Linked DNA regions of Homo sapiens. Changing the gene in region 1 together with any one later gene gives a genetic interaction. Each region holds a gene or a part of one and is shown in the gene's direction. Other genes may lie near its edges.

Region 1 (3,500 bases):
CAGGTATGCTCATGCATTGACAATGGGCATATATATTGGTACAGCCTTCTCTGTGGAGAAGAGTGTGTGTGTGTGTGTGTGTGTGTGTGTAAAACACACCATCTCCATATATTACAAATGTGCATACCCTTTAACCCAGCAATTTGGCTTCTAGGTGATATACTAAATGTACGTGAAATTACCAATGTACAAGGTTATTTATTAGGCCATAGTATGTAATAGCAAAGGCTTGGAAATAATTTTAAAATGTCCATCAAATGAGGGACTGATAAATGCATTTCTTTCTTTCTTTCTTTTTTTTTTTTTTTTTCGGGGGACTGAGTCTCACTCTGCCACCAGGCTGGAGTGCAATGGCCCGATATCGGCTCACTGCAACCTCCGCCTCCCAGGTTCAAGCAATTCTCCTGCCTTCTGAGTAGCTGGGATTACAGGTGCACGCCACCACACCCAGCTAATTTTTGTATTTTTAGTAGAAACGGGGTTTCGCCATGTTGGCCTGCATGGTCTCGAACTCCTGACCTCGTGATCTACCTGCCTCGGCCTCCCATAGTGCTGGGATTACAGGCGTGAGCCACTGTGCCCAGCCAATAAATGCATTTCTACTCAATTATACAATGGAATTCTATAAAGACAAGAAGAAATGGGTTGTCTTTGTATATTGGTATAGAGTGATCTTTAAGATAATGAACATATGCTGTTATTTATGCAAAAAGTTGAAAAGAATACATAGACCTGAGCTGGGCGTGGTGGCAGTGCCTGTAGTCCCAGCTGCTTGGGAGTCTGAAGCAGGGAATTTGAATTTGGGTTTGGGAATTCTAGGCTGTAGTGCCGATCTATGTTGAGCATCTATGCCGATCTATGCCGATCTAAGTTGAGCATCAGTATGGTGACCTCTGTGGAGTGGGGCACCACCAGGTTGCCTAAAGAGGGGTAAACTGGCCTAAGTTGGAAACAGCACAAGTCAAAACTCCTATGCTGATAAGTAGTGGGATCAAGCCTGTGAATAGCCACTGGATTCCAGCTGGGCAACATAGATAGACCCTGTCTCTTATAAATTAAAAACAAAAACAAACAAAAAAAAAGCCAACCTGATAATACTGGTTTACTCTGAGAAAGAAACAGGTGGATTGCTGAGGTGTATGATTGAGAGAGAGACTTTACATTTTATTTTGTACCCATGCAAATGTATTACCTATTGAAAAAACAATAAAATTTTGATTTCACAAGCAGGTTGAAGGGAGAAGGTCCTATAAAATAACACTTTCTTGGTTGAGATTGGTTGGTTGAGACTCATTTGGTAAAGATGGAAGAAAGAAAATATTTCAGAAAGAAGAAAATGCTAATATTTTCTATCTTTGTTAGGTGGAAGTTTAGCTGATGCTATAAGTGAAAACTACAGAATCATGAGTTACTTTAAAGAAGCAGAGTTGAAGGATCTCCTTTTGCAAGTTGGCCGAGGCTTGAGGTATATTCATTCAATGTCTTTGGTTCACATGGATATAAAACCTAGTAAGTATTGCAGATCTTCTGACCTGTGTTCTTTGGGGTTATAGAGAATAAATTACTTCATTATGACAACATTGAAAAAATATATATCTTCTGTTTTCTCATTGTTAGTTTTAAAAGGCCTTAGATCCACTTACCAATATTGTTTTATGATTTCTATTCATCTCTTCCCTTGTTAATCCCCAAAATTTGAGATAAACTTTTTTGAGACAGTGTCTCATTCTGTGGCCCAGGCCGGAATGCAGTGGCACCATCTCCGCTCACTGCAACTTCCCCATCCCGTGCTCAAGCAGTCATCCCACCTCAGTCTTCCGAGTAGCCGGGACTATAGGCATGTGCCACCATGCCCAGATAAATTCATTTTTATTAAAAGCCAGAAATTTTTGCTGCATCTTACAGGAACTACAGGTGGGATACTAATGAGGGCACTAAAAATCTGTGTTTAAAGCCCCACTCTTCCACTAGGCCAGACCATATTAAAATTTCCCCAGTTGACTCAAGTCCTTAATAGTTGATTTGTTCAAATTAGTATCTACTTAAGGATCATGCATTGCATCTGGTTATATCAGTTTTTCTTTTTCAGAACCCATCCTCTGCTTTGTAAAAATAATATACACTTATCTTGCAAGCTATCCCTTTTTCTGGATTTGACTAGTTGCTTCTTGTATCATTTAGCTTGTTCCTTTTTCTCCTATATTTCCTATAAATTGGAAGTTATAACTAAGGATTATGGATTCAAGTTAAGCATCTTAGGCTAGATGAATTTAGTGAGGTTTTATTAATCTTTGGAAACCTGTTGATTTGTGAGAATTTCAGTCATTTTGTACAACTTTATGAGTTATATGCTAGAATTTCATATGCGTATGTTAACAAGTCACTAAAGTTTCTTCTTTCTTTTTTTCTTTTTTTGAGATGGAGTCTCGCTCTGTTGCCCAGGCTGGAGTGCAGTGGCACAGTCTCAGCTCTCTGTAACCTCTGCCTCCCACGTTCAAGCGATTCTCCTGCCTCCGCCTCCCGAGTAGCTGGGATTACAGGCATACACCACCATGCCCGGCTAATTTTTTGTATTTTTAGTAGAGACGGGTTTCACCATGTTGGCTAAGCTGGTCTTGAACTATTGACCTTGTGATCTGCCCACCATGGCCTCCCAAAGTGCTGAGATTACAGGCGTAAGCCACCGTGCCCAGCATGTTTTTTATTTTCAAAAGACAAAAATATATTTGGATTTAAGGCAGTAAATGTGAATTCTTAAGGAATAGCTGTACTCATATAAAGTGTTAGACAAATATAATAGACCCTTATAAGGTATAAAAGTTGAAAATATTAAGGGATGTGAAGTTTAAAAATCTTCAAATTTAGACCAGGTGCAGTGGCTGACGCCTGTAATCCCAGCACTCTGGCAGGCCAAGGCAGGCAGATCACGAGGCAGGAGTTCGAGACCAGCCTGGCCAATATGATGAAACCCCGTCTCTACTAAAATTACAAAAATTAGCCAGGTGTAGTGGTGCGCACCTATAGTCCTAGTTACTCGGGAGGCTGAGGCAGAAGAATTGCTTGAACCCGGGAGGCGGAGGTTGCAGTGAGCCGAGATTGCACCATTGCACTCCATCCTAGGCAACAAAGTGAGACTCCGTCTCAAAAAAAGAAAAAAAAAATTCGCCGGGCGTGGTGCCTCACGCCTGTAATCCCAGCACTTTGGGAGGCTGAGGCGGGTGGATTGCCTAAGCTTGGGAGTTCACCACCAGCCTGGACAACACGGTGAAACCTCGTCTCTACTAAAATACAAAAAATTAGCTGGGTGTGGTGGCAGGCACCTGTAGTCCCAGCTACTCTGGAGGCTGAGGCAGGAGAATTGCTTGAACCCGGGAGGAGGAAGTTGAAGTGAGCTGAGATCGCACCACTGCACTCCAGCCTGGGCGACAGAGCGAGACTGTCTCAAAAAAAAAAAAAAAAAACCTTCCAATTTACAAATACCATCACAAAATAAGTTGTCC
Region 2 (3,500 bases), on another chromosome or scaffold:
ACTGTCAGCCCAAGATAATAACAGTTATGATACAGTTGCCATTTATTGAGTCTTTGCTATGTGCCAGGTAATGATTAAAGATTTTTCATGCATTAACCGATTTAATTGTTATAACCACCCTTTGAAGTAGGTACAGTTAGTATGCTCTTATGCCCATTTTACAGATGAGAAAGCAGAGGCAAGAGTGTCGCTAACACGTGTGTGTTCCAACAGGATCTGTCCAAAACCCTCCTGATGTACACGGTGCCTGCCGTCCAGGGCTTCTTCCGTTCCATCTCCTTGTCACGAGGCAACAACCTCCAGGATACACTCAGGTATCAGAGAAGGGAAGGATGCAACTCTGGTAGGCCATGTTAATGGCAAGACCTAGAAGTCACACGTAAAAGTCCTCTTTCCCTTCCTGACCCTGATCAGGACACCCAAGATCGATGTATGTGCCTTTTTTCTGCACTGCATTTAAGGAGTAACAGCTGACTGGGCCCCACCTGTGTGGGTGAAACCTACAGAGAGTGAGGAGGAGAAGTGGAGTGAGAACTCTCCATGTGTGGTTTATTATGGAGGGATTATTAACCCATCTGTTAATCACAATATTTCTTTTTTTCTGACCACCCTGTTGCCTATTGAAGTCACAGTATTTCTAAAATCCCTCAGCAACTTGGAGAGGTCTAAACAAATGACTCAAATCAGTTAACCCAGAGGGTAAAGGTGACAAGGTCCACATCCTCCTTCATTTGAGGATCTCCAGCCAGCTAAGAGCCAGGTGTCCCTGTTGCCTCTGCCGTACAGCGACTCTTACATGTGCAGACTTGTGGCTTTCTAAAGGTTATCCTGGCTCGTCTGTTTGATGTTTGCATACATGCCATGGTGACCCCTCGGTGACCTGGGATGAAATGCTCATTTGCTCAGGGTGACTCTTACGGTGTTCAGTCAAGAGCACTGCCACCCATCACAGACACCTGCTCCCATGGGAGGCCAAACACATTTGAGAGTTACTGGTTGGAGTCCCTGCCAGCTCTCTTCTCAGGAGCCTTAGAGATGAAAAACAGGCAGGCAAAAACTGGGAAACTAAATTTTCTGTGACTTTCTCATTTCTTTTTCAGAGTTCTCACCTTATGGTTTGATTATGGTCACTGGCCAGATGTCAATGAGGCCTTAGTGGAGGGGGTGAAAGCCATCCAGATTGATACCTGGCTACAGGTGAGGATACTTGGTTACAGGTGAAGGTGGCTCCAAGTCTCTCTTCTGTGTGTCTCCTCTTACAAGCATGCTGTGTTCAGTGTCACAAGGCAGTGTGTGTTAATACAGTGCTAAGGAAGTAGGGCTCGGTCCCAGTGTCAAGTGTCCATATTTTCTTTATTTTCTTTTAGAAACTAAAGGGAAGGGAATGAACCATTTCAGAGCATCAACCGAAACAAGTTAAAAGAATTGATCTTTGCCTAGAAGAATAACTAGTTGTTTCAAGTCTCATATGCTACATACTGTGTCTTTTTGAATACCAGGTTATACCTCAGCTCATTGCAAGAATTGATACGCCCAGACCCTTGGTGGGACGTCTCATTCACCAGCTTCTCACAGACATTGGTCGGTACCACCCCCAGGTATGTGGAGACTCTGGGCAGTTTCTCATCTAACCACTGGTTTGGTGGTCAGCCTTTCCAAAAGCTGCCCTGGCGACACAAGCGCAGGAACTGGGAGCCATGTGTTCCATCCTGGCCCAGGAGGGTCTGTCCAGCCAGCCGTCCCAGAGGGCCCGGGAGCCTTGCTAAAAAGAAAGCGTTCCCTCGAAGACTGAGCCCCTTCCTGGTAGTCTCAAGCAGATGTTAATGTCACACTCACCACTTGTTTTGTTATTCTCCTTAAAATTCATACCAGCTCTTCCCCAACCCACATTTCCTTTATAGATGTTTCTTCTGTTTTTCCCTCAGGCCCTCATCTACCCACTGACAGTGGCTTCTAAGTCTACCACGACAGCCCGGCACAATGCAGCCAACAAGATTCTGAAGAACATGTGTGAGCACAGCAACACCCTGGTCCAGCAGGCCATGATGGTGGGTCGGAGCCACTGTGGGGCTTCATAGACCCTGGTCCCTTAGCTGGTGGGCGCAAGTGGGATTGTTTTTCTTCCTCGCATTGGTGCTGTGCACTTCCTCTGACTGCTGGAAATAGTACCTCCTGTGTCTCCAAAACAGACCTTTCTGAGGTTAGCTGATTCTTGATGCTTCTCTCCTTCTTCTCTTGGCTTCAGGTGAGCGAGGAGCTGATCCGAGTGGCCATCCTCTGGCATGAGATGTGGCATGAAGGCCTGGAAGAGGCATCTCGTTTGTACTTTGGGGAAAGGAACGTGAAAGGCATGTTTGAGGTGCTGGAGCCCTTGCATGCTATGATGGAACGGGGCCCCCAGACTCTGAAGGAAACATCCTTTAATCAGGTATGGGGTAAAAAACACGAAAGGACATAACCCTGTAGAAATATTCTGCCACTAAAAAAAAATGAAATGAGAAAAGTTTTTATAGAATGAAAGGACGTGACCCAAGGCCTTTGTCAGATTTCTTTTCCTCTGGCCTTTCCACTGACTTTAATAAAACGAGCTCTGATGGAGGTCACAGAGCATAAAACATCAGAAATTAGTTACAGGGACCCTTCTGAATTTTAACTGGAAAAGCCCAAGATTTCTCAAGAGGTCATCTCGTCTCTCCTCTCACCCTTCCTTCCCTATAAGCCATGCTGCTGGTTTGGAAGCTCCAGGGTTGGAGGCCTGCACCTATGCTCTTGCTTTCTCCAGCCCCCTGCCAGTGTTTTCAGGCCACAGCGGGCTCCTGAGGAATATCTGCAGTCAGCCTGGGGATTTTGCCTCCTGGGTTGGTTGAGACTTTGATAACTTGAAAACGTGCCTGCTTTCTCTCTCAGGCCTATGGTCGAGATTTAATGGAGGCCCAAGAGTGGTGCAGGAAGTACATGAAATCAGGGAATGTCAAGGACCTCACCCAAGCCTGGGACCTCTATTATCATGTGTTCCGACGAATCTCAAAGCAGCTGCCTCAGGTAGGATCTTCAGGCTCCTGGCAGGGTTAACTGTCATTATAGTCCTTTCTGTTTTACTGTCTATGAATGTTCTAACACTCATTCCAAAGCATCTGGTTTTACTTCTGCTTTGGGACAAGTAATTGTTATTAGCAATCCACTGAAAAATACTTAAATTGCGTTTAAATTCTTCCCTGGAGGCAGAACACTAAATCCTTTGGTAATTATTTACAGCTCACATCCTTAGAGCTGCAATATGTTTCCCCAAAACTTCTGATGTGCCGGGACCTTGAATTGGCTGTGCCAGGAACATATGACCCCAACCAGCCAATCATTCGCATTCAGTCCATAGCACCGTCTTTGCAAGTCATCACATCCAAGCAGAGGCCCCGGAAATTGACACTTATGGGTAAGGACCATTGTGCACTTCTGTCACCCACTTCTCCCTCCTACACTGGCTGAGACCCCTTCCCTCTTCT
Region 3 (3,034 bases), on another chromosome or scaffold:
AAATTTAAAAATTTAAAAAAATAAAAAGAATCCAACCCCGGCAGGGCGTGGAGGCTCACACCTGTAATCCAGCACTTAGGGAGGCCAAGGCTGGAGGATTGCTTGAGATCAGGAGTTCAAGACCAGCCTGGGCAACATAGTTAGACCTTGTCTCTATTTTTAAAAATATAACAAGCACAGTTGTACACGTCTTTAGTTCAGCTGCTCAGGAGGCTGAAGTGGGAGGATCCTTTGAACCCAAGAGTTTGAGGCTGCAGCAAGCCATGATCACACCACTGCACTCCAGCCTGGGTGACAGAGTAAGACCCTGTCTCAAACTTTTTTTAAAATGAAAGAATCCAACCTTTTTTTACTCTGACCTGCGAGAGTGCAGAGGGTCTGGGGAACATTTGCAGAAGCAACAGGTACCAGCCAGTGCTGGAAGGAGCTCACCCTGGGAGGTCTCGTCAGCCTCTGTCCTTCATGGCTGTCCCTTGTGTCCCATGTGGAGAGCCCTTCCTCCCTTTCCACATGGTAAGCACTGAGCCCAATTTCTTCTCACCCCACAGATGGTCCCTCAGAGCAGAGATGTCTAATGAAAGGTTCAGATTCAGATCACTAACTTTCCATCTTCCACTTTTTCCAGTGGTGGCCATGTTCCCCCGTTTGCCTTCACAAAAACCTTGTGAATAATACAAGCCATATGGACTCTGATTTACAGTTTAGAAGATGAGCAGAGGTGGGTGTGAGTTGCCCAGTCATGTTGCTAGTTGTTGAAGAAACTAGGATTGTTCTCAGGTCTTGGGCTCCTGGCCCATAGACCAGTGGCTCTGTGTTCTGATGGGGTATTGGGGAGGATTTTTACAAATGCAGGTTCCTGAGATTGTTCCTGGAACATCTCCGAGTGGGTGTGGGTTGTGGCCCTGCGTGTGTGATTTTGCCTATCCCAGCTCCGGGGTACCACCAACCACTTTTTGTCTCTGTGGGTTTACCTACTCTGGATATTTTGTTTAAATGGAATCATACCAGGCTGGGCACAGTGGCTCACGCCTGTAATCCTAGCACTTTGGGAGGCCAAGGTGGGCAGATCACCTGAGGTCAGGAGTTCGAGACCAGCCTGACCAATATGATGAAACCCCGTCTCTAAAAAAATACAAAAATTAGCCGGGCGTGGTGTCAGGCACCTGTAATCCCAGCTACTCAGGAAGCAGAGGTTGCAGTGAGCTGAGATCGGGCCATTGCACTCCAGCCTGGGCAAAAAGAGTGAAACTCTGTCTCAAGAAAAAAAAAAAAATGAAATCCTACCATACATGACATCCTGTGTCTGGTTTCTTTGACTTGGCTGATGTTTGTCAGGCTCATCCACATTGTAGCATGTCAGTCCTCGATGTTTATGATAAGCTGATAGCCCACTGTATGAATATACCACACGATTATCCATTTGTCAGTTGATGGACATTGGGTTGTTTCCACTTTTTGGCTATTGTGAATAGCACTGTTGTGAACATTGGTGTATGAGTGTCTGATGACTTGTTTTCAGTTATTTTGGGCATATGCCGAGGAATGGAATTGTAGTTTTATACCATAACTCCATGTTTTGACTTTTTGAGGAACCTACAAATTTTCCACAGTGGATGCACCACTTTACACCCACCAGCAGCACACCAGGGTTACTGCTTCTCCATATCCTTGTGAACACTTGTTCCTTTCCTTTTCTTGTATTATAGCCATCCTAGTGTTTTGTCATCCTAGTGGGTATGAAGTGGCGTGTCATTGTGGTTTTGTTTTGCATTTTCCTAGTCATTAATGACATTGACCATCTTTCCACAGGCTTACTGGCCATTGGTATACATTCTTTGGAGAATGTCGATTTAAGTTCTTCACCCATTTTTTATTTTTTATTTTTTATTTTTTTTTGAGATGGAGTTTCGCTCTTGTGCCCAGGCTGGAGTGCAGTGGTGCGATCTTGGCTCACTGCAACCTCTGCCTCCTGGGTTCAAGCAGTTCTCCTGCCTCAGCCTCCCAAGTAGCTGGAATTACAGGCATCTGCCTCCACACCCAGCTAATTTGTTTAGTATTTTTAGTAAAGACGGGGTTTCACCATGTTGGCCAGGCTGGTCTCAAACTCGTGACCTCAGGTGATCTACCAGCCTCGGCCTCCCAAAGTGCTAGGATTAACAGGCAGGAGCCATCACACCTGGTCTCTTCCCCCATTTTTAAATTGTGTTGTCTGTCTTTGTTGTTGAGTTGTAGGAGTTCTTAATAGTTTCTGGATATCAGATGCCTTTGTGGTTTTCACATCTCTGCAGGCAACTGTGTGTCTCAAAAGCAAACTGCAGGATTGGGCTGCACCATGGACTGGGCCAGGCATCTGAGATCAGACAGACCCAGGCTCAGCTCCCACTTCCTGGCCTCTTCTGCCACCCTGGGTGTGCAGCCTCATCCTTGGAGCCCCAGTTGCCTCATCCGTAATGGGGTGTCCTTGTTCATATTGAGGCTCTCTAGTGAAGGCTTACGGTCAGGCACGACTGCAAATTAAAGCTTCACAAATCAAACCTGTTGGAATTTCTAAGTCTCTCTCGATGGCCCACTCAGGTTAGCAGCATGCAGCTCATCCTACCCCGTCAACGTTGACTGGAAGGGTTTTTAGTCCCTGTGTTGAGCCACATCTGCAGCTTGTGCAATGCAAAACCAAGGAAAAGAAAATGGACCCCCCCCGCCCCCCCCTTGATGGATCTAGCTGAGACTAGGCACTGGCCAGGCTGTCACCTACAGTGGTTTCAACCTCCTGCTGCCAGCAAGACAGCATCTCCTGTCCTTTTTGTGCAGGAACCATAGCTCTGTTGGGTTAAGTGTTTTCCTCTACCAAGCAGCTAACCTGGCCTTGAAACCTAATCTCTGATGCCATGTCCCCCCAAGCCCCATCAGAGTTTTGTAAAAAGCCCCTCCCTGCTCTCCACACCAATGCTGAGAGCCCATGGGGTAACTGGAGGCTTCCCTGCCATCTTGGCAAAGAAGCCTGGCTGACGTCCTGCACATGCTTCCCCAGGTGATT
Region 4 (3,500 bases), on another chromosome or scaffold:
TGGCATTCCTTTTTGATTTGCCTTCTGTGCTTGGGAACCTCACTTCCTCACTCTGGCCAGCTCTGCCAGCAGTTTGGAGCTGGTTCAGCGCCCCACCGCCCTGCCTTGGCCTGCGCCCGGCCCTCCAGGGTGGCTTCTCGCCAGTTCCTGTCAGGCCTGCCTGGGCAACCAGGCCTGGGCACCTCCCTGTCCCTTGCTCAGAAAACCCACAGGCTGTGGGGGCCCGGGAGCCAAGCCTGGTGCGCGGGCAGGAAACGCATCCTGGAGCACCAGCTTCCCTGCCCTGCCCGCCTCACGGGGTGCCTGGGGGCGTGCCTCAGCCTGCTGCTCCTGTAGTCTGTTCCTGTCTCCCTGAGCAGGCTGAACATGGGCATACGAGTGACCAGCGTGATCGTGTCCAGGCCAGTGCCGCATTCTGTGTGGTCCAAGGGAAAACCTTCTCCAAGTCCACGGCCCGCCCTTTCCTCTGCTGGGTTACGGCCAAGGGCGCCAGGCCTCACTGGAGGACATGGATCCTGGACCCGGCCCTCGAGGCTGCTGCCTTCCAGTTTCCCCATGTCCTGGACACTCTTGGTCTCACCATTTGGGAGGCCGACAGGGGATGCAGAGTGGCCTGTTGGAAAGGCCTTATGTGACCCCAGGCTGAGTCCCTGAGCAGCCTGCTGAGGCCGGAGGGGAGAAGAGCTGAGCTTCTCCCTTGCTGGGCCAGGCTCGGGCTGTGGAATGGCTGCCAGCTCCCTTCCTGGGAGAGGCTGGGTGGGGTCCACAGCACCTTCCTCCCGTCCCACAGGAAGCTGTCTTCTGCTGTTGGCTGCTGGGGGCGACTGATGTTTGGATCCCTGAGCACCCTGCCAATCCCAGACTCACCTTCCCACTCTTTCCAGAGTCCCCAGGGAGACACTTAAGGGAAATTAAACTGCAGAGTGCAAGAGATGCCTCAGTCAAGTCAGCCAAAAACACGCGGGTCATCCCCAAGCCCCAGAGAGGTGAGTCGGGCAGGGCACTCAACTGCTGCAGGAGGATGGTCTTATTTCTAGCACTTTCCACAGGAGGTAAATGTGGTGGGTTTGGGGGGTTTTTCAAATGCATCAGTGTCTGGAATGGGTTCTAAGCTGCTAAATAATTCTTAGAGGTAAATGACAGACATGTTGCCCTAGATGTAGCTAGACAGCCTTCCCTCTACAGTGAAGTCTCCTCCACCCTCAGTGACAGAGCCCCGATGACACGGACACCTCGGCTGCTGTCACTTCCCTGGTTCGGGCCTCCCACAGGCTTTGAATTGAAGGCGAGTGCCTCAGAATTTGCATCCATTGTTCTGTCTTTCCTGGGAAGTTATTCATCCTGGTGGCCAGCCCACCGACAAAATGGATTTGGATCTACTGGACCTGAATCCCAGAATTATTGCTGCAATTAAGAAAGGTACATTTATTTCTATTTACATAAAGGGTGTGGGTGGGTGTGTGCAGTTTATATAAGGCAGGTTAACAAAACGCTGGCTGGCTAAGCCTTCCTTCCTTTGCCTACCCTGATTATTAAACCGAGGGCGGGATGTACTATGGGATTTTCAGGTGTGTGTGTGTGTGTGTGTGTGTGTGTGTTCTTAACTACATGGATTTCTTTCAGTTACTTTTATTTTTATCAAAGTAATACATGCATATTGTCTAAAAGGTAAAATGGAGCCACATAAAGTCTTTTAGTTTTTTTTTTTTGGAGACGGGGTCTCGCTCTGTCACCCAGGCTTGAGTGCAGTGGTGCGATCTCAGCTCAGTGCAAGCTCCGCCTCCCGGGGTTCACACCATTCTCCTGCCTCAGCCTCCCGAGTAGCTGGGACTACAGGCGCCAGTCACCACGCCCGGCTAATTTTTTTGTAAATTTAGTAGAGACAGGGTTTCACTGTTTTAGCCAGGATGGTCTTGATCTCCTGACCTCGTGATCCGCCCGCCTCAGCCTCCCAAAGTGCTGGGATTACAGGCATGAGCCACCGCACCCGGCCGTCTTTTAGTTATTTTTTTAAAAAATATTTACATCTGGGCTCCTAAACGTGTTTATGTTGTAATGTTTGATTTGTCAGTGTTACTGATTATCCATGGACTTCTCTTGGGGGCTGTGAGGACTGAGCGTGCCTACACCTGTGTACCCCAACTTCCTCTCCCCCCAGCTCCCTGCCCATACTTAGAACCTAGTTTGGGTGACATCAGCTGTCAGGGTTGTGACTGGGTGCATACTGGCCATTGTTGAACCTGGTGTGGTGGTGCAGGGGATGGTTTTCTTTCTTACAGCATCTTTTTTCGCCCGAGTTAGTAAATGCTCAAAACTCAGGCCCCACGTGCAGCCCCTGCCCCCTGCTCCCCATGCCAGCCGCCTGGCTGTCATCCGGGGACCCTCCTGCCAGCTTCCATCCTCCCCCGTCTCCCCGGGCCTCAGCTACGTGAACCTCAGCACGCTGTCTGTGGCGAGAAGCCGGAGTGCTCATGGAGCTGCCGCAGCAGCCTGGTGACAGGGCAGGGCCTCGCTGTCCTGACCCTCCATCCTTGGCTGTTGGTTTTTATCCTCCTGTTGGTGGCCTTGTGATCACAGCTGCTGCCACAGCTGCAGACACGACGCTTGCAGACCAGGGACAGAGAAGGGCTCAGCCAGGGAGTTCCTTTCTCACCTGTGTCTCTTATCCAAAAACCAATGTTTCCAGAAGTCCCTGCAGACTTCACGGCTGTGAAGGGGGCTGGGGCTGTGAGGCTTACCAGGGGGAGCGCCCTGCCACAGCCCCGATCCCGGTGAGTCCTCAGGGCCCACAGAGCCTTCTGGAGCAGCCTGTCTGCGGGAAGCCCCCTCCGCTGGATCTGGTGAAACCCAGGGGCGCTTTCTTCATTCCCACCCTTCCATCTCCTTGTGTTTTCTGTGTGGCTTTTCTGAAGATCACACCAGTGCTTACTGTTTTCCAGCCGCACAATGGTTGTCTTTTCACTGCAGCGTTCAGCGCACCCGTGTTGAGGGGGTTTCTGATGTGGTGGGTGTAAGTCCCCGTGGCCGGGTGGGGCGCTTCGTCCACCACTGCTCCCTCTCGTGTGCGCTTCCTCGCACTTCCCTGATCGGCTGATCAGTCTGCAGCATTTGTCGTCTTTCTACAAGTTTGAAATTAGAAAGTGATGCACTTATCTGAGTCCAAAATTAACTTCCTTGCCCTCCTCCCCAGATGGCAGGTCCTGGGGATCTGCACCCCTGTAACTGCTGCCACCGCCGTTCTGATTCGCACATGCTCTGCCCCCTGCCCTGACTGCCCTGCGCAGCTGGCGTTTGGACCTGGGCTCTGCTACCCTCCCAGCGCTCCCCTCCCCAGGGCACATGTCCTCTCCCGCGGCTCAGCCCAGATCCATGCCTGGTGGGCGGGTGGTGGAAAGCTCGGTGCTGGTTTTTTCCTGCCCCCTTCTGGAGCACTGTCTCCAGCTGGCATGGAACTGGGTGCCTGTCGTTTCTTCTCAGTACCGGAACCTGCTCTCAGCACC
Region 5 (2,172 bases), on another chromosome or scaffold:
CTCTGCAGTCTCTTGCTGTTTGAGACAGCTGTAGTTGACCCACAGGTACAGATATGGCCTGAAGCCCAATTCTTTTTCAGCTACTGCTCCCCAGGGGCACTTAGTAATCTCAGCTAGATGAAGGCTTAATTCACTGTGCCCACCTCTTAGCTCTGAATGCTGATACTCAAACCGGATGAACAACTCTGGGAGGAAAGCTGATTGTGTGTGTGGTGGTTTCCTGGGAAACCACCTCCTCACCTCCTGAAGCCAAGAGTTAGCTGTATTCTTCTAGAGGCTTCAGTCTGCTCCATAGGATCGGTGGTAGAGACTGCAGGGGCATTTTTGTAAAAGTTTATTTGGAAACATTTCACTTACAGAAAAGTTATAAAATTAAAAACAGTACAAAGAACACCCCTATATATAATATCTGTACTCAGATTTACCTGTTACATTTTCTCCCCGTTGCTATATCACTTATGAGTGTGCCTGCCCTCCCATATGTGTATACATTTTTCCTCTTTCTGAACTACTTAAGGGTGTTACATATATCATGGCCTTTACCCCCAAATATTTCAGTGTGCATTTGCTGAGAATAGGGATACTTTTACATAACCATCATAAAATGATCCACTTTTGTAAATTTAACATTGATTAAAAACTTTTATCTGATATCTACCATCTGTAGAACATTGCTCATTTTGAGTTTGTCTGATGTCTCCCCATGATGAGATGCAGGTGAGGCACTCTGGCCAGAACCTTCACAGGGCACCACATCTGGGGGCACATGCTGTTTATCTGCTCCTCCTCGTGTTAATTTCATCCGCTGGTCAAGATGTTGCTCCATTTCTCTACCGTATAATTACTGATTTTCCCCCCTTGCACCTAATAAGTAGTCTGCAGGAAGACATTTTAAGGCCATGCAAGTATCTTGCTTTCATCAAAATTTCCCTCTGGTGCAGTCTTTACGATGAGCTTGCAAAATGATAACTTTCCAACTCCAGCACACCCTCCACAATTACCAGTCACCACTCAGTCCTCACTCCTGCCGATTCTTTTATATATACATTATTGGTACAGACTCATGAAGTTCTATTTTTTACTGATTTATAATTCATTGCTGGGCTGCTTTTGATGCCCCAATTGCTGTCTTTGTGACATGCCCCCATTGGCATGTTTTGGGTTTTTTTTGGGTTTTGTTTTGGGTTTAATTCCTTTTTCAACATAGCAAAATGTTTTGGGTTTGTCTTGCACTACCTTGGCTGGATATTTGTAATATAGGGAAACAAATAAGGTGAGGCGTGACTAAAATGTCTGCAGTGGACGGTGCACACATGTTTATTGGGCAGTTCTTTAGCTGTCCTCATCTAGACACTTCTGCTTCTCTTTTCTTCACCATTCTCAATCTTCCTTTCCAGCTTGGTCCAGGCCAATCCAGAGGTTGCCATGGATTCCATCATCCATATGACGCAGCACATATCACCCACTCAGCGAGCAGAAGTCATACGGATCCTCTCCACAATGGATTCCCCTTCCACGTAGGAAGAGCTTCCTGCCTGTCCCTGCCCTGTCTCTGGAGAAAAGGGCTAGAGCTGCCTTTTACAACTGTAACCACTGTAATGAGAAGGCACAGGAGACCCAGCACTGGAGTCAAATGGCATTTTACTTCCTCTCGTTTCAGGTTATGCATGACATCCTGGGATGTAAGATCACAGAATCCCCCTCCAGCCCACCAGTCACACCTACCCCATTCAGTATTTATTACCCTGGCCAGGCCTAGTCCTCCACTCCCTGCACAGGACTGAGAAGGCAATGAAAGGTACAAACATGTACCATGAGGTCTTACTAACCAAAGTAGGGCTGCCCCTCCTGTCCTGACAGCCCCTTGGCCTCCCAGCATGGGGAAGCGTGAGGAGTTGCCCAGCAGTGAGCAGCCCCCCTCACTCCTGGCCCCATGAGCCGCAGCCACAGGCAGCAGAGGAGGGCTAAGGAGAGGAGGAAGCCTCAAGTCCATTGTTTATTACCCCGACTCTTAGCCCAGCACACAGTAGGCACTGGAGAGGAATGATTCCCAGTTTAACCACACTACGGTACCTTTTATGAAGAAAAATTAGAGCATAAAATCTACTACAAGCTCCATAGGAACTCAAAGATGAGGGCAAAACTGTGAGCCAAGAAGCAGAGAAAGAAAAT
Region 6 (3,500 bases), on another chromosome or scaffold:
TGGATCTCACAGATAGAATTCTACCTAGGCTTCAAGCTAGAGAAAAATGTAAGCCACAGCTGTTGAACTTCCCACCTTATACCAGAAATCAGATAGTCACTATTTTGCAAGATCGACTTAATCAGGTCAGTGCCAACTATTTTGCCAAATTATGTGTTCCTTGGATCACCTGTGCTAGGAAAATTTAACAATAGTTCTAAAATATTTTTGCCTTGATTGCTTTATTAATGGAGCAAGGAGTTCCTATGGACCATAGTGAGAACATTTTTATGTGAATTTCAGCTTCATTCATTTACTGGGTGTCTCAGTGTTGAAATAAAAGCAGGAGTTAGAGGAATCACCCAAGCGCTTTTTTTTTTTTTTTTAGATGAGTTTTGCTCTTATCGCCCAGGCTGGAGTGCAATGGCGTGATCTCGGCTCTCTACAGCCTCTGCCTCACGGGTTCAAGCGATTCTCCTGCCTCAGCCTCCCCAGTAGCTAGGACTACAGGCACCTGCCACCACGCCCAGCTAATTGTTGTATTTTTAGTAGAGCTGGGGTTTCACCGTCTTGGCCAGGCTGGTCTCGAACTCCTAACCTCAGGTGATATGCCTGTCTCGGCCTCTCAAAGTGCTGGGATTACAGGCATGAGCCATCGCACCCAGCCTCAAGTGCTTTCTTTAATGACCTTTAAAAAATAGGGCCTATGAAAAAACTTTTTCTGTTGAAAATGACTAAATAGATTTTTTATTTTTGCTAATTTCAGTTCTGATTGCTTTTTTCCATTTATGAACTTCTACTGCATCCGTACAAAAAGCTTAAATGTGTGAAAACTCTCAAACGTCTCCATTATTTATGAGAAGAAAAGGCATCTTTTTAACCCTAAAGAGTTGCCAATCAAGTTTAGGGTTAAATGTGAAAATATTTATGCTTGGGACCTAAATTACAGAGGGAGAATCTTATGGTTCAAACTGTCATCTTCTATGTCTTGTCTGAAGGTATCTAGAGATCAGGTTCTGGACAATGCTGCAGTTCAATTCTGTGCCCGCAAAGTCTCTGCTGTTTCAGGAGATGTTCGCAAAGCACTGGATGTTTGCAGGTGAGTTACGGCTCTGTTGCATTCTTTTATTAAAAAAAAAAAAAAAGAAATGCTGTTAATTGTCTCATGTAACTCAAGTGAATGTGGCTTAAGAGGCTCTGTTCTGCTACTTTTTTACGCTCAGAAAGGAGGACTTGTTTCTCAGTGGGGAGCTCTGGATTTCCACCGTGTTAATGTCTGAAACATTATCAGTCCATTACCTACAGAGGGAGAAACAAATGAGATGTTGCTGGCACTCCCTGTGGTGATTATAGATTGGTTAATTACATTTGTATTAAAAAAGACTCCAGTTTACTTTTCCATTAGCTGGTCTCAAGCAGGTTTATTTATGGACCTGAACCGTCTTTGCCTTTAGACTTGTTCCCCTTCCTTTCCTTTTGTGAGCACCCCTTCTTCCCTTCAGTTGGTGGTCCCCCACAGTTGTACTCCAGACCTCTTTCTCCCTTCCCATCCTCCTGCCCCTCCTGCTGGGGAAAGCCTCTGTGCCGACTGATGAAATTTCTTCCTTCCCAGTAGGGACACTGGGTCCATTAAAATGATACTTGCTGTGCTGGCCTGCTGGTCCAACCTCCCCCTATTGCTATGCAGAAGACCCAGGTCTGGCTTATGGCTTCCTGTGGGCAAGTACTTTGGAGAGAGCAGTGGGAGAGTAAGCTCTTCCTATTGCTAGATTGCATGATCCTGAATTTGAAAGTTTCCCCTAATCAGCAAACTACTTGGGTAAAGACTGCAACTATGAGCAATAGTCATGTAGGCTAGCGTGGTTTAGCCTACACATATCCTATGTATATATAACTGAAGATATCCCTTTTAGGTTTGGTGTGTATGGGTGATGCTGACTCCCTTTAGTCAGTCACCCACACTACATATCCTCTCTCCTACCCATGACATTTTCTCCTCATCCAAAATGTTATCATTGGCTTAATGTATGATGACCTACTTGGCATCCATTAGGAGGAAACCATTGAAGTTTCTCAAATCTGATGTCCATGAATTATTTCAAAGCAATTAAGTCCCCTTATCTGAGAAATAACCCAGTTTTGTTTGGGGGCTTTAAAATTATAAAACATCATAATTTTAAAGTTACACGTAGGATATGTGTAGGCTAAACCATGTTAGCCTACATGACCATTGTTCATAGTTGCAGTCTTTGAGCAATGGTCATTAATGTGCCGCTTTTGAGGCTGGTGGTTTGGTGTGTTTGGTTTGGCTCAGACTAAATTAATTTTAGAAATTTTTTTTATAGGAGAGCTATTGAAATTGTAGAGTCAGATGTCAAAAGCCAGACTATTCTCAAACCACTGTCTGAATGTAAGTAGTTTATCTCCTTCCTGTCTTCCTTTGTAACTAGAAGCTTAGCTTTTCTGAGGAAAGAGGTAGAAAGATGAAATGAACATAGTTAAATCCAAACTCACCCATTTTTATGTGTGTCTGTGTTTTTAGTCCGTTTCGTCTACTTTATTTCAATCTTGCCTGCCAGTACTATAGTTCGTGCATTACTGGAAATGAGTTCCCAGGGTATTGATTGCGTAAATGGCTGGGACAGAGTAAGTTTTTTTTCCAAGCTCTGGAAATGAAACTTGTAGACAATGAGGTTGGATCAGCTCTCTGGGTGCTTATGTTGCGTGCACTTTAGGTCTCAATATAGGTGAAAGCAAAGCCTGATAAATAAGGGAGAATTGGGTAAAAGAATTGTGAAGCCAGGTGCGGTGGTTCACACCTGTAATCCCAGCACTTTGGGAGGCCAAGGCGGGAGGATCGCTTGAGCCCAGGATTGTGAGACCAGCCTGGGCAATATAGTGAGACCTTGTTTCTACAAAAAATTTTAAAAATTTTGCAGCCATTAAAAATATGAGTTCATATCCTTTTTAGGGACATGGATTAAGCTGGAAACCATCATTCTCAGCAAAGTAACACAGGAACAGAAAACCAAACACCACATGTTCTCACTCATAAGTGGGAGTTGAACAATGAGAACACATGGACACAGGGAGGGGAACATCACACACCGGAGGCTGTTGGGGGTGGAGGCCAAAGGGAGGGAGAGCATGCAGGACTTAAAACCTAGATGACAGGTTGATGAGTGCAGCAAGCCACCATGGCACATGTATACCTATGTAACAAACCTGCATGTTCTGCACATGTATCCCAGAACTTAAAAAAAATTAGGCAAGCATGGTGTGTGCCTGTAGTCCTAGCTACTTGGCAGGCTGAGGCAGGAGAATCACTTGAGCTGGAGAGGCAGAAGTTGCAGTGAGCCGAGATGGTGCCACTGCACTGCCAGCCTGGGCAACAGAGCGAGACCCTGTCCCAAAAGAATAATAATAAGAAGAATTATAAGTTCAACTTGGGATATCTCAAGCTTTTAAACAAGTCTAGAGGGTAGAGGTAAAAAGATCATACTGCTACAGTAAGCTGCATG
Region 7 (3,500 bases), on another chromosome or scaffold:
GAATGACCCACTGTCACCCAGGCCAGAGGGCAGTGGTGTGATCGCGGCTCACTGCAGCCTCCACCTCCCTGGCTCAAGCAATTCTCCTGCCTCAGCCTCCCAAGTAGCTGGGATAACAGGCATGTGCCACCATGCCCAGCTAATTTTTGTGTTTTTTAGTAGAAATGGGGTTTCTCCATGTTGGCCAGGCTGGTCTCAAACTCCTGACCTCAGGTGATCTGCCCACCTCAGCCTCCCAAAGTGCTGGGATTACAGGCGTGAGCCACCGTGTTCGGCCTACCCTGTTTTAAACCTCACCATAGTTTACTTTTCTTCTACCCTCAACTTTCTCAGAGCTTTCTTGTATTAAATAACTTTAGTATGATTAAAATAAAATTCTATACTACACTTTGGTTGTAGTCTGTCATGCCTGTGCCTTTGCACATGTTTTTATCTCCTTTGACACTCAGTTAAGGAGTCATGCCCTGAGGAGTATTCTCCCTCATCACCCCGGCCCTGCGTTCCTGTATAGCGTCCTCTGCATGTCTTCGTTGTATGTCCTTTCATACATTATAGTCACTGCTGAGATATTTCTGACTGCTATCACAATCTCTTTGAGTTCAGGGACTGCATATTTTATCTCTATCCCCAGAATCTAGCATAACCCCTAGCAAAGTAGGAATTCAAAAATCACAGAATGAATAGTACATAGGTGATTTATAAAAATAGAACCATCCCACATAGTACCACTTTGTAACCCACCTCTTTTTCCCTCAATATATTAGAAAATAAAGTCCTGTAAATATTTTTAGTGGCTGCATAGTATTCCATTATGAGGCTGGATCATACCCAATTTTTAATATGAGCATACCTCAGAGACACTGCAGGTTCAGTTCCAGACCACTGCAATAAATAAAGCATATCACAATATAGGTAGTCACATAAATTTTTTCTCAGTGCATATAAAAGTTATATTTACACTATACTGATAGTCTAATAGATGTGCAATAGTATATCTTTAAAAAATGTATGTACCTTAGTTAAAATATGACTGGAAAATGCTAACAATCATCCGAGCCTTCAGTGGGTCATAATCTTCTCACTATGGAGTGTCTTGCCTTGATATTGATGGTTGCTGACTGATAAAGGTGATGATTGCTGAAGGCTGGGGTGGCTGTGGCAATTTCTTAAAACAAGAATGAAGTTTGCCACATTGATAGACTCTTCCTTTGAAGAAAGATTTTTCTGGAGCATGTGATGCTATTTTATAGGATTTTACCCACAACAGAATTTCTTTCAAAATGGGAATCAGTCCTCTCAAACCTTGCTGTTGCTTTATTAACTTAGTTTGCATAGTATTCTAAATCTTTCGTGATCAACAATGTTCACAGCATCTTCACTGGGAGTAGATTTCATCTCAAGAAGCCAGTTTCTTTGCTCATCCATAAGAAGTAATTCCTTATCCATTGACATTTTATCATGAGATTCCAGCAATTCCATCCCATCTTCAGGCCCCACTTTTTTTTTTTTTTTTTTTGAGACGGAGTCTTGCCTGTGGCCCAGGCTGGAGTGCAGTGGCCCGATCTCAGCTCACTGCAAGCTCCGCCTCCCGGGTTCACACCGTTCTCCTGCCTCAGCCTCCCTAGTAGCTGGGACTACAGGTGCCCGCCACCACGCCTGCTAGTTTTCTGTATTTTTTAGTAGAGACAGGGTCTCACTGTGTTAGCCAGGATGGTCTCCATCTCCTGACCTCGTGATCCGTCCACCTTGGCCTCCCAAAGTGCTGGGATTACAGGCATTAGCCACCACACCCAGCCCAGGTTCCACTTCTAATTCTAGTTCTCTTGCCATTTCCACCACATCTGCAGTTATTTCCACCCCCAAAGTCTTAAACCCCTCAAAGCCATCATGAGGGTTGGAATCAACTAACTCCAAACTCCTGTTAATGTTGATATTTTGATCTCCTATGAATCATGAATGTTGTTAATGCCATCTAGAATAGTGAATCCTTTTTAGAAGGTTTTCCATTGACTTTGCCCAGATCCATCAGAGGCTATTGCAGCTACGGCCTTACAAAATGTATTTCTTAAATAGTAAGACTTGAAAGTCAAAATTACTCCTTGATCCATGGGCTGCAGAATGAGCAGGAATATTTTGAAAGGAATCTTCCTTCCTGAGAAGTAGGTCTCAACAGGAGGCTTTAAATATTTAGTGAACCATGCTATAAACAGACGTGCTGTCATCCAAACTTCGTTGTTCCATTTCTAATACACAGGCAGAGTATATTTAGCGTAATTCTTAAAGGCCCTGGGATTTTCAGAATGGTAAATGAGCATTGGCTTCCACTGAAAGTCATCAGCTTGCATTAGCTCCTAACAAGAGAATCAGCCTGTTCTTTGAAACTTTGAAACTAGGCATTGACTTCTCCTTTATAGCTATGAAGTCCTAGATGGCATCTTCCTTGAATAGCAGGCTATTTTGTCTCCACTGAAAATCTGTTCTTAGTGTAGCCACCTTCATCAATGATCTTAGCCAGATCTTCTGGATAAACTTGCTGCAGCTTCTACATTAGCACTTGCTGCTTCACCTTGCACTTTTTTCTTATGGAGACAGCTTTTTCCTTAAACGTCATGAACCAAACCCTTGCTAGTTTCAAACTTTTCTTCTATAGCTTTCTCACCTCTCTCAGCCTTTACAGAATTAAAGAGGGTTAAAGCCTTGTTCTAGATTGGGCTTTGGCATAAGGTACTGTGGCTGGTTTGATCTATCCAGACCACTCAGCTTCCTCTACATCAGCAATAAGGCTGTTTGCTTTTTTGTTTTTGTTTTTGTTTGAGACGGAGTCTCGCTCTTTCGCCCAGGCTGGAGAGTGCAGTGGCGTGATCTCAGCTCACTGCAAGCTCCACCTCCTGGGTTCACGCCATTTTCCTGCCTCAGCCCCCCAAGTAGCTGGGACTACAGGCACCTGCCACCATGCCTAGCCAGGCATACACTTTTTTGTATTTTTAGTAGAGACAGGGTTTCACTGTGTTAGCCAGGATGGTCTCGATCTCCTGACCTCGTGATCCGCCCACCTCGGCCTCCCAAAGTGCTGGGATTACAGGCGTGACCCACCGCGCCTGGCCAAGCTGTTTGCTTTCTTACCATTCACATTTTCACTGGAATAGCACTTCCAATTTCCTTCAAGAGCTTTTCTTTTGTATTTACAACTTGGCTGTTAGATGCAAGAGGCATGGCTTTTGGCCTGTCTTGGCTTTGATGTGCCTCCTTCACTAAGCATAATCATTTCTAGCTTTTGATTTTACATGAGAAATATGCGACTCTTCCTTTCACTTGTACGCTTAGAGGCCATTGTAGGGTTATTAATTGGCCTCATTTCAATATTGTTGTGTCTCAGGGAATTGGGAGGCCAGAAGAGGGGGAGAGAAACAGGAATAGCCAGTTAGTGGAGCTGTCAGAACACATAACATGTATCGATTCACCATCTTAAAAGGGCATGATTTATGGCACCCCATAACAGT

The links.
Region 2: changes in WEE1 (region 1) and MTOR are lethal when combined (synthetic lethality), as found in Homo sapiens cells (one large-scale study listed by BioGRID).
Region 3: changes in WEE1 (region 1) and TOP3A are lethal when combined (synthetic lethality), as found in Homo sapiens cells (one large-scale study listed by BioGRID).
Region 4: changes in WEE1 (region 1) and XRCC3 are lethal when combined (synthetic lethality), as found in Homo sapiens cells (one large-scale study listed by BioGRID).
Region 5: changes in WEE1 (region 1) and ACACA together harm fitness more than expected from each alone (negative genetic interaction), as found in Homo sapiens cells (one large-scale study listed by BioGRID).
Region 6: changes in WEE1 (region 1) and CDC6 are lethal when combined (synthetic lethality), as found in Homo sapiens cells (one large-scale study listed by BioGRID).
Region 7: changes in WEE1 (region 1) and DHFR are lethal when combined (synthetic lethality), as found in Homo sapiens cells (one large-scale study listed by BioGRID).

Annotation. Positions count from the first base shown.
Region 1 is NC_000011.10:9,580,170-9,583,669, forward strand, and holds part of WEE1 (wee1-like protein kinase), read left to right. Parts: intron 1-1,362; coding exon 1,363-1,509; intron 1,510-3,500. UniProt on the Homo sapiens protein: Acts as a negative regulator of entry into mitosis (G2 to M transition) by protecting the nucleus from cytoplasmically activated cyclin B1-complexed CDK1 before the onset of mitosis by mediating phosphorylation of CDK1 on 'Tyr-15'.
Region 2 is NC_000001.11:11,126,552-11,130,051, reverse strand, and holds part of MTOR (serine/threonine-protein kinase mTOR), read left to right. Parts: intron 1-213; coding exon 214-314; intron 315-1,100; coding exon 1,101-1,197; intron 1,198-1,499; coding exon 1,500-1,598; intron 1,599-1,925; coding exon 1,926-2,048; intron 2,049-2,245; coding exon 2,246-2,428; intron 2,429-2,907; coding exon 2,908-3,042; intron 3,043-3,255; coding exon 3,256-3,430; intron 3,431-3,500. UniProt on the Homo sapiens protein: Serine/threonine protein kinase which is a central regulator of cellular metabolism, growth and survival in response to hormones, growth factors, nutrients, energy and stress signals.
Region 3 is NC_000017.11:18,270,928-18,273,961, reverse strand, and holds the end of TOP3A (DNA topoisomerase 3-alpha), read left to right. Parts: 3' UTR 1-2,534; downstream 2,535-3,034. UniProt on the Homo sapiens protein: Releases the supercoiling and torsional tension of DNA introduced during the DNA replication and transcription by transiently cleaving and rejoining one strand of the DNA duplex.
Region 4 is NC_000014.9:103,708,952-103,712,451, reverse strand, and holds part of XRCC3 (DNA repair protein XRCC3), read left to right. Parts: intron 1-790; exon of another isoform or gene 791-884; 5' UTR 885-986; intron 987-1,206; 5' UTR 1,207-1,364; coding exon 1,365-1,419; intron 1,420-3,500. UniProt on the Homo sapiens protein: Involved in the homologous recombination repair (HRR) pathway of double-stranded DNA, thought to repair chromosomal fragmentation, translocations and deletions. Part of the RAD51 paralog protein complex CX3 which acts in the BRCA1-BRCA2-dependent HR pathway.
Region 5 is NC_000017.11:37,086,665-37,088,836, reverse strand, and holds part of ACACA (acetyl-CoA carboxylase 1), read left to right. Parts: intron 1-1,397; coding exon 1,398-1,521; 3' UTR 1,522-2,172. UniProt on the Homo sapiens protein: Cytosolic enzyme that catalyzes the carboxylation of acetyl-CoA to malonyl-CoA, the first and rate-limiting step of de novo fatty acid biosynthesis.
Region 6 is NC_000017.11:40,294,379-40,297,878, forward strand, and holds part of CDC6 (cell division control protein 6 homolog), read left to right. Parts: coding exon 1-125; intron 126-977; coding exon 978-1,078; intron 1,079-1,202; coding exon of another isoform or gene 1,203-1,322; intron 1,323-2,324; coding exon 2,325-2,389; intron 2,390-3,500. UniProt on the Homo sapiens protein: Involved in the initiation of DNA replication. Also participates in checkpoint controls that ensure DNA replication is completed before mitosis is initiated.
Region 7 is NC_000005.10:80,641,484-80,644,983, reverse strand, and holds part of DHFR (dihydrofolate reductase), read left to right. Parts: intron 1-3,500.